Regions from separate parts of the Homo sapiens genome. Here all the other regions are linked to region 4. Evidence: fine-mapped expression QTL. A gene starts in region 4. Each other region holds a variant in brackets. All regions are shown on one strand. Distances are from middle to middle. Region 1 overlaps SH3GL1 (SH3 domain containing GRB2 like 1, endophilin A2). Region 2 overlaps YJU2 (YJU2 splicing factor homolog). Region 3 overlaps YJU2 (YJU2 splicing factor homolog). Region 4 holds the start of MPND (MPN domain containing).

The links. PIP is the estimated chance that this variant, and not a neighbour inherited with it, causes the effect. A credible set is the group of variants that fine-mapping cannot tell apart.
Region 1: its variant is the best candidate, but not a certain one, in a credible set for the expression of MPND in thyroid (GTEx, PIP 0.83).
Region 2: its variant is the best candidate, but not a certain one, in a credible set for the expression of MPND in whole blood (INTERVAL, PIP 0.50).
Region 3: its variant is the best candidate, but not a certain one, in a credible set for the expression of MPND in liver (GTEx, PIP 0.50).

What each region holds. Positions count from the first base shown.
Region 1 is chr19:4,363,531-4,366,030 of GRCh38, reverse strand. SH3GL1 (SH3 domain containing GRB2 like 1, endophilin A2) reads left to right here. Exons shown (of 10, transcript NM_003025.4): 4 at 406-549; 5 at 1,810-1,943; 6 at 2,153-2,311. Among named protein-coding and RNA genes, the nearest start is that of MPND, 21 kb to the right of the region's middle. RefSeq lists an enhancer at 1-109. The variant C/G (reference allele first, on the strand shown) is at 1,325.
Region 2 is chr19:4,254,668-4,257,407 of GRCh38, reverse strand. All of the region lies in intron 4 of YJU2 (YJU2 splicing factor homolog), which reads right to left. Among named protein-coding and RNA genes, the nearest start is that of YJU2, 9.0 kb to the right of the region's middle. The variant A/G (reference allele first, on the strand shown) is at 1,092.
Region 3 is chr19:4,258,274-4,261,013 of GRCh38, reverse strand. It overlaps YJU2 (YJU2 splicing factor homolog), which reads right to left. Exons shown (of 8, transcript NM_018074.6): 5 at 2,591-2,740. Among named protein-coding and RNA genes, the nearest start is that of YJU2, 13 kb to the right of the region's middle. The variant C/T (reference allele first, on the strand shown) is at 1,611.
Region 4 is chr19:4,342,273-4,345,012 of GRCh38, reverse strand. MPND (MPN domain containing) reads right to left here and starts at 1,451. Exons shown (of 13, transcript NM_001300862.2): 1 at 1,413-1,451; 2 at 1,019-1,305. The coding sequence starts at 1,419. RefSeq lists a silencer at 1,310-1,599 and enhancers at 1,668-2,399, 2,420-2,539.

The sequences.
Region 1 (2,500 bases), 21 kb before region 4:
CAGGCCCTGCCAGGAGCAGACCCAAGCGGGCAGCGGAAGGGACACAGCTCATCACCCACCCCGGGAGCCTTGGCCTCAACCACCCCCCGCTGCACATCACTGCTGCGCCTCCTCCCTGGCACCCCCCAGATGAGGGGTCATAGCCACGTTCCAAGAGGAGCAGCCCTTGGAAGGAGGAGGTTTTGCCCCCTGAGGAGCTTGGTCACCTCTCCACCCGCTGCCAGCTCCTTTGAGGCTAGCAGGAGCAGGGAAGGGACCCTCTGGGGATTCCACTGTGCTTTGTGTGGCCTAGGCTGTCCACAGGCACAGGAAGCAAGGGTGGGGAGGAGATGTGGGGGCTGCAGTCTGCCAGGGCAGAGGAGTGCAGGCCTCACAGCCCACACCCACCTGGCCATCCTATCCCAGCCTCGCGGGCTAAGCTGACCATGCTCAACACGGTGTCCAAGATCCGGGGCCAGGTGAAGAACCCCGGCTACCCGCAGTCGGAGGGGCTTCTGGGCGAGTGCATGATCCGCCACGGGAAGGAGCTGGGCGGCGAGTCCAACTTTGGTGAGTGGTGCTCTCTGGAAGCCACGCCCACCGTCCCTGGAGGCCACACCTCAACACAGGCAGGGCAGGTCCAGGCCCTGCATGTGCTGAGTGCCGGGGACGTACAGTGGCCCCCACAGCTTTCCAGCTGCAGAGGTGCAGGAGACTGCACAGACCAACCCATCCAGCACTGGCCAGCAGCTGATAGGGCCCCTTCCTGTAGCTCCAGACCTTCCCCAACTCAAGCCAGCTGCTTCCCCAGGGCCTGGACCCCCCAGCATCTGTCCTTCCACCTGTTAAGGGCAAACCTAGGCCCTTTTAGGAGCATTGGAGGGTCTGGTTTAACGTCCAGCATCGATTCGGATTTTAGGATCCTTTGTTTTGCCCTGAGTTCCAATTTCCGGGCCCTGGGCTTAGAGTGTTGGGGGGCTGTTAGAAGTTGGGATGGGGCCAAGTGTGGTGGCTCATGCCTGTAATCCCAACACTTTGGGAGGCCAAGGCAGGTGGATCACCTGAGATCGGGAATTCGAGACCAGCAAGACCAATATGGAGAAACCCCACCCCGCTTCTACTAAAAAAAAAAAAATATATATATATATATATACACACACACACACACACACACACACACACACAATTAGCCGGGTGTGGTAGTGCATGCCTGTAACCCCAGCTACTCGGGAGGCTGAGGCAGGAGAATCACTTGAACCCAGGAGGTGGAGGTTGCAGTGAGCCGAGACTATGAAAAAACAAAACAAAACAAAACAAAACAAAAACCGGGTGCGGTGGCTCACGC[C/G]TGTAATCCCAACACTTTGGGAGGCCGAGGCGGGCGGATCACAAGGTCAGGAGTTCGAGACCGGTGTGGTCTATATGGTGAAACCCCGTCTCTATTAAAAATACAAAAATTAGCTGGATGTGGTGGCAGGCCCCTGTAATCCCCCTTACTCAGGAGGCTGAGACAGGAGAATTGCTTGAACCTGGGAGGCAGAGGTTGCAGTGAGCTGAGATCATGCCACTGCACTGCAGCCTGGGCAACAGCGAGACTTCATCTCAAAGAAGTTGGAAAGGATCCAGGTGTGGGGGTGAACGCCTGTGGTCCCGGCTACTTGGGAGGCTGAGGTGCCAGCATGGCTTGAGCCCAGTTTGAGGCCTGCAGTGAGCTGGTACAGCGCCACTGCGTTCCAGCCTGTGAAACGCTATTTCAAAAACAAAGGCTGAGGAGTGTCTCAGTCTAGTGGTCCCAGGCCCGGTATGATGGCTTCCCCCACCACTTCTCCACAGGTGACGCATTGCTGGATGCCGGCGAGTCCATGAAGCGCCTGGCAGAGGTGAAGGACTCCCTGGACATCGAGGTCAAGCAGAACTTCATTGACCCCCTCCAGAACCTGTGCGAGAAAGACCTGAAGGAGATCCAGGTGCTGCTCCTGCGCCAGCCTGGGGCCTGTCCCTTCCCCCTGCCGGATGGGGCAGCCCCATTCCTGCCACCCTCACCTCCAGCCTCGGCACTGCCCTCTGGGTCTCAGGCAGGCAGGATCCCCAGTGGTGCAGGGACAGTGGGTCAAAGCCATGCGTGGGGCGGCCCTCTGGCCGCTACTGGTGTGACCCATGTCCCCCACGTCTCCAGCACCACCTGAAGAAACTGGAGGGCCGCCGCCTGGACTTTGACTACAAGAAGAAGCGGCAGGGCAAGATCCCCGATGAGGAGCTACGCCAGGCGCTGGAGAAGTTCGAGGAGTCCAAGGAGGTGGCAGAAACCAGCATGCACAACCTCCTGGAGACTGACGTGAGTAGCTCGGGGTGTCACATCCTGAGAAGACCTATGCCCTTGGGAGGCCGGGGTGGTGCCTCAAGGGAGCTGGAGGACAGATCGGCACCTACCTGGCCGCTGCAGCAGGGGAGGTGGAGGGTATGGGCCCCAGTCCCCTGTCCCCTCTCAGCCCCCTTGCCTCCTGTGGCTTCACCTCGGGAGTCA
Region 2 (2,740 bases), 88 kb after region 4:
GGCAGGAGAATCACTTGAACCCAGGAGGCAGAGGTTGACTGAGCTCAGATCGTGCCAATGCATTCCAGCTTGGGTGACAGAGCGAGACTCTATCTCAAAAATAATAATATTAAGGAAAAATTGTAAAAGACAACCTGAGCACCTACTGTACACCGGGCCCTGGGCTAAGAGGTTTCCATATGCCATCTCATTTAATCCTCACAACCCCCATTTTACAGAAACGGAAACTGAGGCTGAGGGAGGCGAGTCTGGTGGCCACGGGTCCCTGAGAAGTGGCTTTGGAGCCAGGCAGGTTGGGAGTGAATCCTGCCTGGCTGCTTCCCAGTGCTGTGACCTTGTTGTATTTACCCTTTGGAAAAATGGCAATTCTGACAGTTTAAAAGTATGTCCACAAACTCTCTGATGCTCCTCCATTTAAGGGGTGGAGGTGACTCCCCTCCCCTTGAGCAGGGGCTGGACAAGCTACTTGCTCTAATGGAATATGACAGAAATAATGGCACGTAACTTCTGAGACTAGGATGTAAAAGCACAGGCCTTCCTCCTTGCTCTCACTCTTGGGTCACATGCTCTGGGGTACGCAGCTGCCATGTTGTGAGGTTGCTCAAGCAGCTCCCCACACAGCGAGGAACTGAGGCTGACAGCCAACAGCCAGTAGAGGGAGCCAGTTTGCGAGTGGCTCCTCCAGCCCCAGTCCAGCCTTCAGATGATACTGCCCTGGCCAACACCTTGACTGCAACCTCATGGGAGCCCCCAAGCCACAACCATCCAGCTCAGCTGCTTCTGGATGCCTGACTCTCAAAAACTGTGGGATAATAAATGTTTGTTGTTTTCAGTCACTAAGTTTTGGGATAACCTGTTATGTAGCAATAGCTGACTAACACCAGGGTAAGAGCCCCTTGCTGTCAGTGTGGAGGTAACTAAATTCACACACAGACAGCAGTGCGACAGGCCCAGGCACACACCAAACCCTTGCCAAGGCTCATTTCCCTCCCTGTTGCTCTGCATGGCCATGGAAAATGTTGTATCTGGTCTGATGTGGCTTGCTCAGAAAACTCACATTTGGCAGGGGTGGGTGGGTCCAGGAATAGATA[A/G]GAATGGATGGGAAATATGGAAGCAGGAGGGGACAGCAGGGAACACAGTCATTTAAAAATCTGTTTTATATATATATGTGTATGTATATATATGTATATGTGTGTGTACATATATATATATATATATATATATATTTTTTTTTTTTTGCGACAGTCTTGCTGTCTTCCAGGCTGGAGTGCAGTGATGTGATCATAGCTAACTGCAGCCTCAACTTCCTGGGCTCAAGTGATCCTCCCGCCTCAGCCTCCCTAGTAGGTGGGACCACAGGTGCACACCAGTACACCTGCCTAATTTTTGTTGTTGTTGTTGAGACAGAGTTTTACTCTTGTTGCCCAGGCTGAAGTGCAATGGCGCGATCTTGGCTCACTGCAACCTCCGCCTCCTGGGTTCAAGCAATTCTCCTGCCTCAGCCTCCTGAGTAGCTTGGATTATAGGCGCGTGCCACCACGCCTGGTTAATTTTTGTATTTTTAGTAGAGACAGGGTTTCGCCGTGTTGGCCAAGCTGGTCTTGAACTCCTGACCTCAGGTGATCCGCCTGCCTCAGCCTCCCAAAGCACTTGGCTGATTTTTTTTTTTTTTTTTTTTTTGACACAGAATCTTGCTCTGTCACCCAGGCTGGAGTGCAGTGGCATGATCTCAGCTCACTGCAGCCTCTGCCTCCTGAGTTCAAGCAATTCTCTGCCTCAGCCTCCCGAGTAGCTGGGATTACAGGTGTCTGCCACCATGCCCGGCTAATTTTTTGTATTTTTAGTAGAGACGGGGTTTCACCCTCTTGGCCAGGCTGGTCTTGAACTCCTGACCTTGTGATCCACCTGCCTTGGCCTCCCAAAGTGCTGCGATTACAGGTGTGAGCCACCACGCCTGGCAAGCACCTGGCTAATTTTTTAATGTTTTATAGAGACAGAGTCTCACTATGTTGCCCAGGCTGGTCTTTGACTCCTAGACTCAAGTGATCCTCCTGTCTCAACCCCTAAAGTAGCTGGGACTACAGGTTCAAGCCACCATGCATGGCTCCTTTTAATATTTCTGAGAAAATACAAAATTGTCCTATTGGAAGTGAACATAATTTCTTTTATTTATTTATTTTTTTTGAGACAGAGTCTTGCTTTGCTGCCCAGGCTGGAGTGCAGTGGTTTGATCTCGGCTCACTGCAACCTCTGCCTCCCGGGTTCATGCAATTCTCCTGCCTCAGCCTCCCAAGTAGCTGAGATTACAGGCATGCGCCACCATGCTTGACTAATTTTTTTTTTTTTTTTTTGGAGACAGAATCTCACTCTGTCACCCAGGCTGGAGTGCAGTGGCGCCATCTCGGCTTCCTGCAACATCTGCCTCCCCGGTTCAAGCGATTCTCCTGCCTCAGCCTCCTGAGTAGCTGTAATTCCAGAAGCGTGCCACCATGCCTGGCTAATTTTTGTATTTTTAGTAGAGACGGGGTTTCACCATGTTGGTCAGGCTGGTCTCAAACTCCTGACCTCGTGACCCACCCACTTCGGCCTCCAAAAGTGCTGGGATTACAGGTGTGAGCCACTGCGCCCAGTGTTAAGTTTTAAAATTTTTAGTAGGAACAGGGTTTCGCCACATTGGCCAGGCTGGTCTAGGACTCCTGACCTCAAGTGATCCTCCCGCCTCAGCCTCCCAAAGTGCTGA
Region 3 (2,740 bases), 84 kb after region 4:
CACTCGCTTGGTGAACTCCTACTCGACCTTCAATACCCAATGCAAGACGCTCTTCCTCTGAGAAGCTCATCCTCATAATTCAAGCTCACGCATCCTGGCTTCTCTCTCACCCAGATGGATGTTGTCCTGGGTATTGGTCTCCTTGTCCCTCTCCCTCCCCACACAGTGAGCTCCGTGAGGGCAGAGCACCCATTGGGACTTCCTTAACCCAGTGGTTACCACTTCCTCTATTTAAACATAAAACAGATTAAAGGGGCCAGATGCAGTGGCTCATGCCTGTCATCCCAGCTCTTTGGGACGCTGAGACGGGAGGATCGCTTGAGCCAGGGGTTAGAGACCAGCCTGGGCAACATAGCGAGACCCCGTCTCTAAAAAAATTAAAAATGTTAGCTAGGACTACAGGCACATACCACCATGTCCAGCTAATTTCTGTAGTTTTAGTAGAGACGGGGTTTCACCATCTTGGCCAGGCTGGTCTCGAACTCCTGACCTCAGGTGATACGCCCACTTCAGCCTCCCAAAGTGCTGGGATTACGGGCGTGAGCCACCGACCGCACCTAGTCTACTTTTTAATTTTCATTTTTTTTAGGAGGAATCTTGCTCTGTCGCCCAGGCTGGAGTTCAGTGGCACCATCTCGGCTCACTATAACCTCTGCCTCCCGGGTTCAGGCAATTCTCCTGTCTCAGCCTCTGGAGCAGCTGGAATTACAGGCATCTGCCACCACGCCCAGCTAATTTGTTTTTGTATTTTTAGTACAGATGGGGTTTCGCCATGTTGGCCAGGCTGGTCTCGAACTGCTGACCTCAGGTGATCCGCCCGCCTCAGCCTCCCACAGTGCAGGATGGCAGGCAGGAGACCCTGCGCCCGGCCCCTTCTACTTTTTTACATTAACTTTTCCGTGTCCACCGAGGGCAGTGGTGTGGTTAAGTGCCTGGATGCCGGAACCAGCCTGTCTGGATGGAGCCTGGAGGGTAACCTTGGTGGGGCTCATGCCTGGACCTCCCTGGACCTCAGTCCCCTCCATGATGAAGATCACACTGACCCCCAGGGCTGTGTGGGTAGTGAGGTTACAGCCACGCCCGGCACCCGGAAGGTGCAGGATGAACGCAGGCTCCCAACACTGTTCTGCACGGTATCGCTGCTCTGCACACCCATCAGGCACTGACGTGGAACCTACCAGAACCTACCTGCTGGAAGCCCTGGGGACACAGGAGAGGCCACCACGTCCCTGTCCTTACAGCTCAGATTCTAAAGGAGGGAGGGGAGATGAGGCACCAGGAAAGGAGGGGATCAGCACGCGGGCTCAGAGGTGGTCGGCGTCAAAGGCATTCACCAGCCAACCACAGGGGCTCACACGTGTCATCCAGCACTTCAGGAGACTAAGGTGGGAGGATCGCTTGAGGCCAGGAGTTCAAAACCAGCCTGTCCAACATAGCGAGGTCCTGTCTCTACAGAAATAAAAACAATTAGCTGGGCATGGTGATGTGTCCCTGTGGTCCCAGCTACCCAGAAGGCTGAGGCAGGAGGAACGCTTGAGCCCGGGAGATGGAGGCTACAGTGAGCTATGACTGCACTACTGCACTCCAGCCTGGGCGGCAGAGCAAAACCC[C/T]GTCTCAAAGAAAAAGAAAAGCGTCGTCCGGGCGCGGTGGCTCACGCCTGCAATCCCAGCACTTTGGGAGGCCGAGGCGGGCGGATCACGAGGTCAGGAGATCGAGACCATCCTGGCTAACACGGTGAAACCCCATCTCTACTAAAAATTACAAAAAATTAGCCGGGCTTGGTGGCGGATGCCTCTAATCCCAGCTACTCGGGAGGCTGAGGCAGAATGGCATGAACCCGGGAGGCGGAGCTTGCAGTGAGCGAGATGGCGCCACTGCCCTCCAGCCTGGGCAGCAGAGGGAGACTCCGTCTCAAAAAAAAAAAAAAAAAAAAAAAAAAAAAGAAAAGTGTTCACCCAGGAGGCCTGAGGCTGTGTCCTCAGAAGGCGGCTGGTGAGGGCGTCCCTTGGTGGGTGTCCGGGAGCCTGTGCTGGGGGCCTCCCACCCTCATGGATGGGACGGGCTCTGGGGCTTCAGCTGTTCCTGCAAACACCATGGTTTATGCGTGACCCCTGCTTTCCTCTGGAGTCTGGAATCCCGGCATGGGTGAGGCAGCGGGGGCTGTGGGACCAGGCCCCATAGGAACCCCACGCTGGGTCTCTAGGAGCTTCCCTAGTGATGGCGCCTTTCTCGAGTCCTCCAGGCTGGTGCTAGGGGATGAGGCGCGTCCTGCGAAGCTCCACCAGGAGAGGATCTGGAAGGCCTGGCCCCCGACACACCACACATGCCTTTCCCCTTTGCTGAATCTGCTGTGTCCTCTCGCTGTGACAAACCGCAGCCATGCGGGCGACCACGTGCTAAGTCACCGTGCCCGGCAGTGGCCTGGGACCCCCTCGAGAGACGCCACAAGGGAGAAAGTGAGATGGGCGGTGGGAAAGGGGTCCTTGCAAAGGCGACACTCCAGAGAGCGGGGAAAGGGTCTGGGGCAGAGGCAGCGCCTGCCGGGGCAGAGGCTGCGAGGTGGGGCTGGGTTGGGCCGGCCCTGACTCACGCGGTCTCCTGCTCGTCCTCCTCCTGCTGCTGCCTCCGCCGCTCCTCCTCCGACAGGCGGTGCTGCCTCAGCATAGCCTCGAAGTCCACGTGCGCCTGCCGCTGGTTCAGGTCTTTCAGCTCCTGGAGGTTCTCCAGCACCTCCATCTCC
Region 4 (2,740 bases):
TCCCAGCACTTTGGGAGCTGAGGCAGGCGGACCACGAGGTCAGGAGTTCAAGACCAGCCTGGCCAATATAGTGAAACCCCGTCTCTACTAAAACTGCAAAAAAAAAAAATTAGCCAGGCGTGGTGGCGCATACCTGTAGTCCCAGCTACTCGGGAGGCTGAGGCAGAAAATCGCTTGAACCGGGAGGCAGAGGTTGCAGTGAGCCGAGATCGAGCAACTGCATTCCAGCCTGGGCAAAAAAGCGAGACTCTGTCTCAAAAAAAAAAAAAAAAAAAAAGTACTAATACCTACCACAGATAAAGTGCTTACCATGTGGCAGGCGCCTGCTGAGGGCTTTATTCATTTAACCATCCCCTAATTTTCCCATGGTGGGGAAATATTCCATTTCACGGCTGGGAAACCACAGGAAGGCCGGGGTGTTGCCCATCTGACCCTGCGCGGGTGGTGGCTCCTCTCTGAGCCTCAGCTTCTCCTTTGTGGGATGGGGTGTTTGGTAATCTACGTCCTCCCCACCAGAAGGACCCATCTGTGCCTCAGATTCCTCTCTCCACATGGGGCTTGTCCCGTAAAAAGAGCTCCGGGCCTCAGTGTCCCCTCCACGGGAGCTCCTCCTGCAGGAAAGGAGCTCTGGGCCTCAGTTTCCCCTCCCCACACTGGGGCTTGTCCTAAAGCAAGGGAGCTCTCCAGGCCTCAGTCTCCCTTCCTCACACCGGGGCTCTTCCTGCCGCCAAGGGAGCTCCGGGCCTCAGTCTCCCCTCTTCATGTCGGGGCTCTTCCTGCAGCCAAGAGAGCTCCGAGCCTCAGTTTCCCCTCCTCACACTGGAGCTCTTCCTGCAGTCAACGGAGCCCCGGGCCTCAGTTTCCCCTCGCCACACCGGGGCTCGTCTCTCAGCAAGGGAGCTCCGGGCCTCAGTGTCCCCTCCCTACACTGAAGCTTGTCCTGCAGCAAGGGAACTCCAGGCCTCAGTTTCCCCTTCCTGCCCGAGCCGCGATGGGACGAGGGAGGCGGGGTGCTCACCAGGTAGTAGATGGACAGCACCCCGGCGCCAGGCTCCAGCAGCGCGTCTTTGAGGAGCACCCGCAGTGTGACCGCGCGCCTGGTGAGCGCGCCCCCGGGCCCGCCGCAGCCCCCCGCCCCGGCCCCGCCGCCGCCGCCTCCTCCGCTGACGCTACTGCCGCCGCCGCCACTGCGTCCACCGCCCGCTCCCGCATTCGGCCGCTCAGGGTCCTCGGCCTCCGCTTCGTCCTCGTCCTCCTCCGGCGCCTCCTCGCCCGCACCGCCCGCCGGGGACAGCGGCTCCGGAGCTGCGGACAGCGAGAGGCTGCAGGGAGGCCGCTCGCCCCACGGCTCTGCAGCCCCGCGCCCCTGCAGCCCCGCGCCCCGCGCCTCCGCCCCGCTGGGCCCGCCGTACCTGCCATGGCCGCGCCTCCCCGCGCCCGGAGCTCTAGACTCCGGCTTCCCGGCACGTCACGCGGCCCCGCCCCGGGGAGGGGAGGGGCGCCCCAACCATTGGCCGTCGCCGGGGTCGGGGGAAGGGCTCGGCGCGCTGGGGTGGGCGGAGAAACTGAGGCCTCGGGGATGCCCACGCGGGAGAGAGATCGGGAACTCAGCCCTCTGGGAACATTCGGGAAACTGAGGCGTGACGGGGTGTTGACCGGGAGCTCATTGGTGCGAATGGGGAAACTGAGGCCTCGCTGTCCAGGGATAGAGGTTGCAAGGTGGAAGCCTGGGGCGGGTGCGCGAGTGGCTCAGCCTGCTGCAAGGAGAGGAGAAGGTGAGACCTGCGGTCACCGCACTTGAGGAACTCAGAGGCCTCGGCCTTTAGGACCAGGGGAGAAACTCAGGTCCAGGGGAACAATGCGGACTCCAATAGGGAACAGCCTCGCGCAGACACAGGTGGAGCCAAAGAGCCCAAGCCGGCCTCAGTCGCTAAAGAATTAACTCCCACCCTCCCGGGCGGCCCTCGACTGATTCCATGATTGGACCGTTGCGGAGCCCGCCAGCCAATGATAAGAGTCCCATTTATTTCACCCTCAACCAATCGATAGCAAGCTACTGGATTCCCGCACCAACCAATCCGTGTCAACTATCTGATTACACCAACTCGGATTTGACCAATGGGCAGACGTCCATGTAAACCAATCAGTAGAAACCCTTAGTTATGAGCGCAAACCATCAGAGGCAGGGACTGGACTCACCAGCCAATCAGCTCCGGGTATAAGGCCAGCCGAGTCCGGCCCTCCATACCCTTGGGCGGAGCAGGAGGCAGGGCCGGGCTCGTTGCGCGCCTGATCAGTGCAGCCCCGGCCTTTGTCCCCTACCCTGTTTCTGCAACTACATCCCCGACCCTGTCCTGGGACCTTCGTCCCGGAGCCCAGGCTCTGGGATTTCCCTCAGTCCCTGGCAGGGTTGAAAGTCCGGGATGGGGACTTCCTAAAGCTCCGGGACGCCGTGGGATGGGCTCAAGTGCGGGTGGCTTTGCCCAGACCGCAGTCGGGAAGTGGGAACTGGACAGTAGGGGTGCGGGGGAGGCTCTCCAGGGTGCTCGGGAATGTTCTCAGGAAGAAGACTTGACATAGAGCAAGAGCTGGGTACATGTGAACTATTGTTGTCCAGCCCAGGCACCCTTTAGGGGCCCCACCCTGACTGTCCAGCCAACAACGGGCATCCCCAAGGCCTGCAGACTCAGCATAGCCCAAACCGGCCTCAGTTTATTTCCCCAACTCCTTACGCACTTTC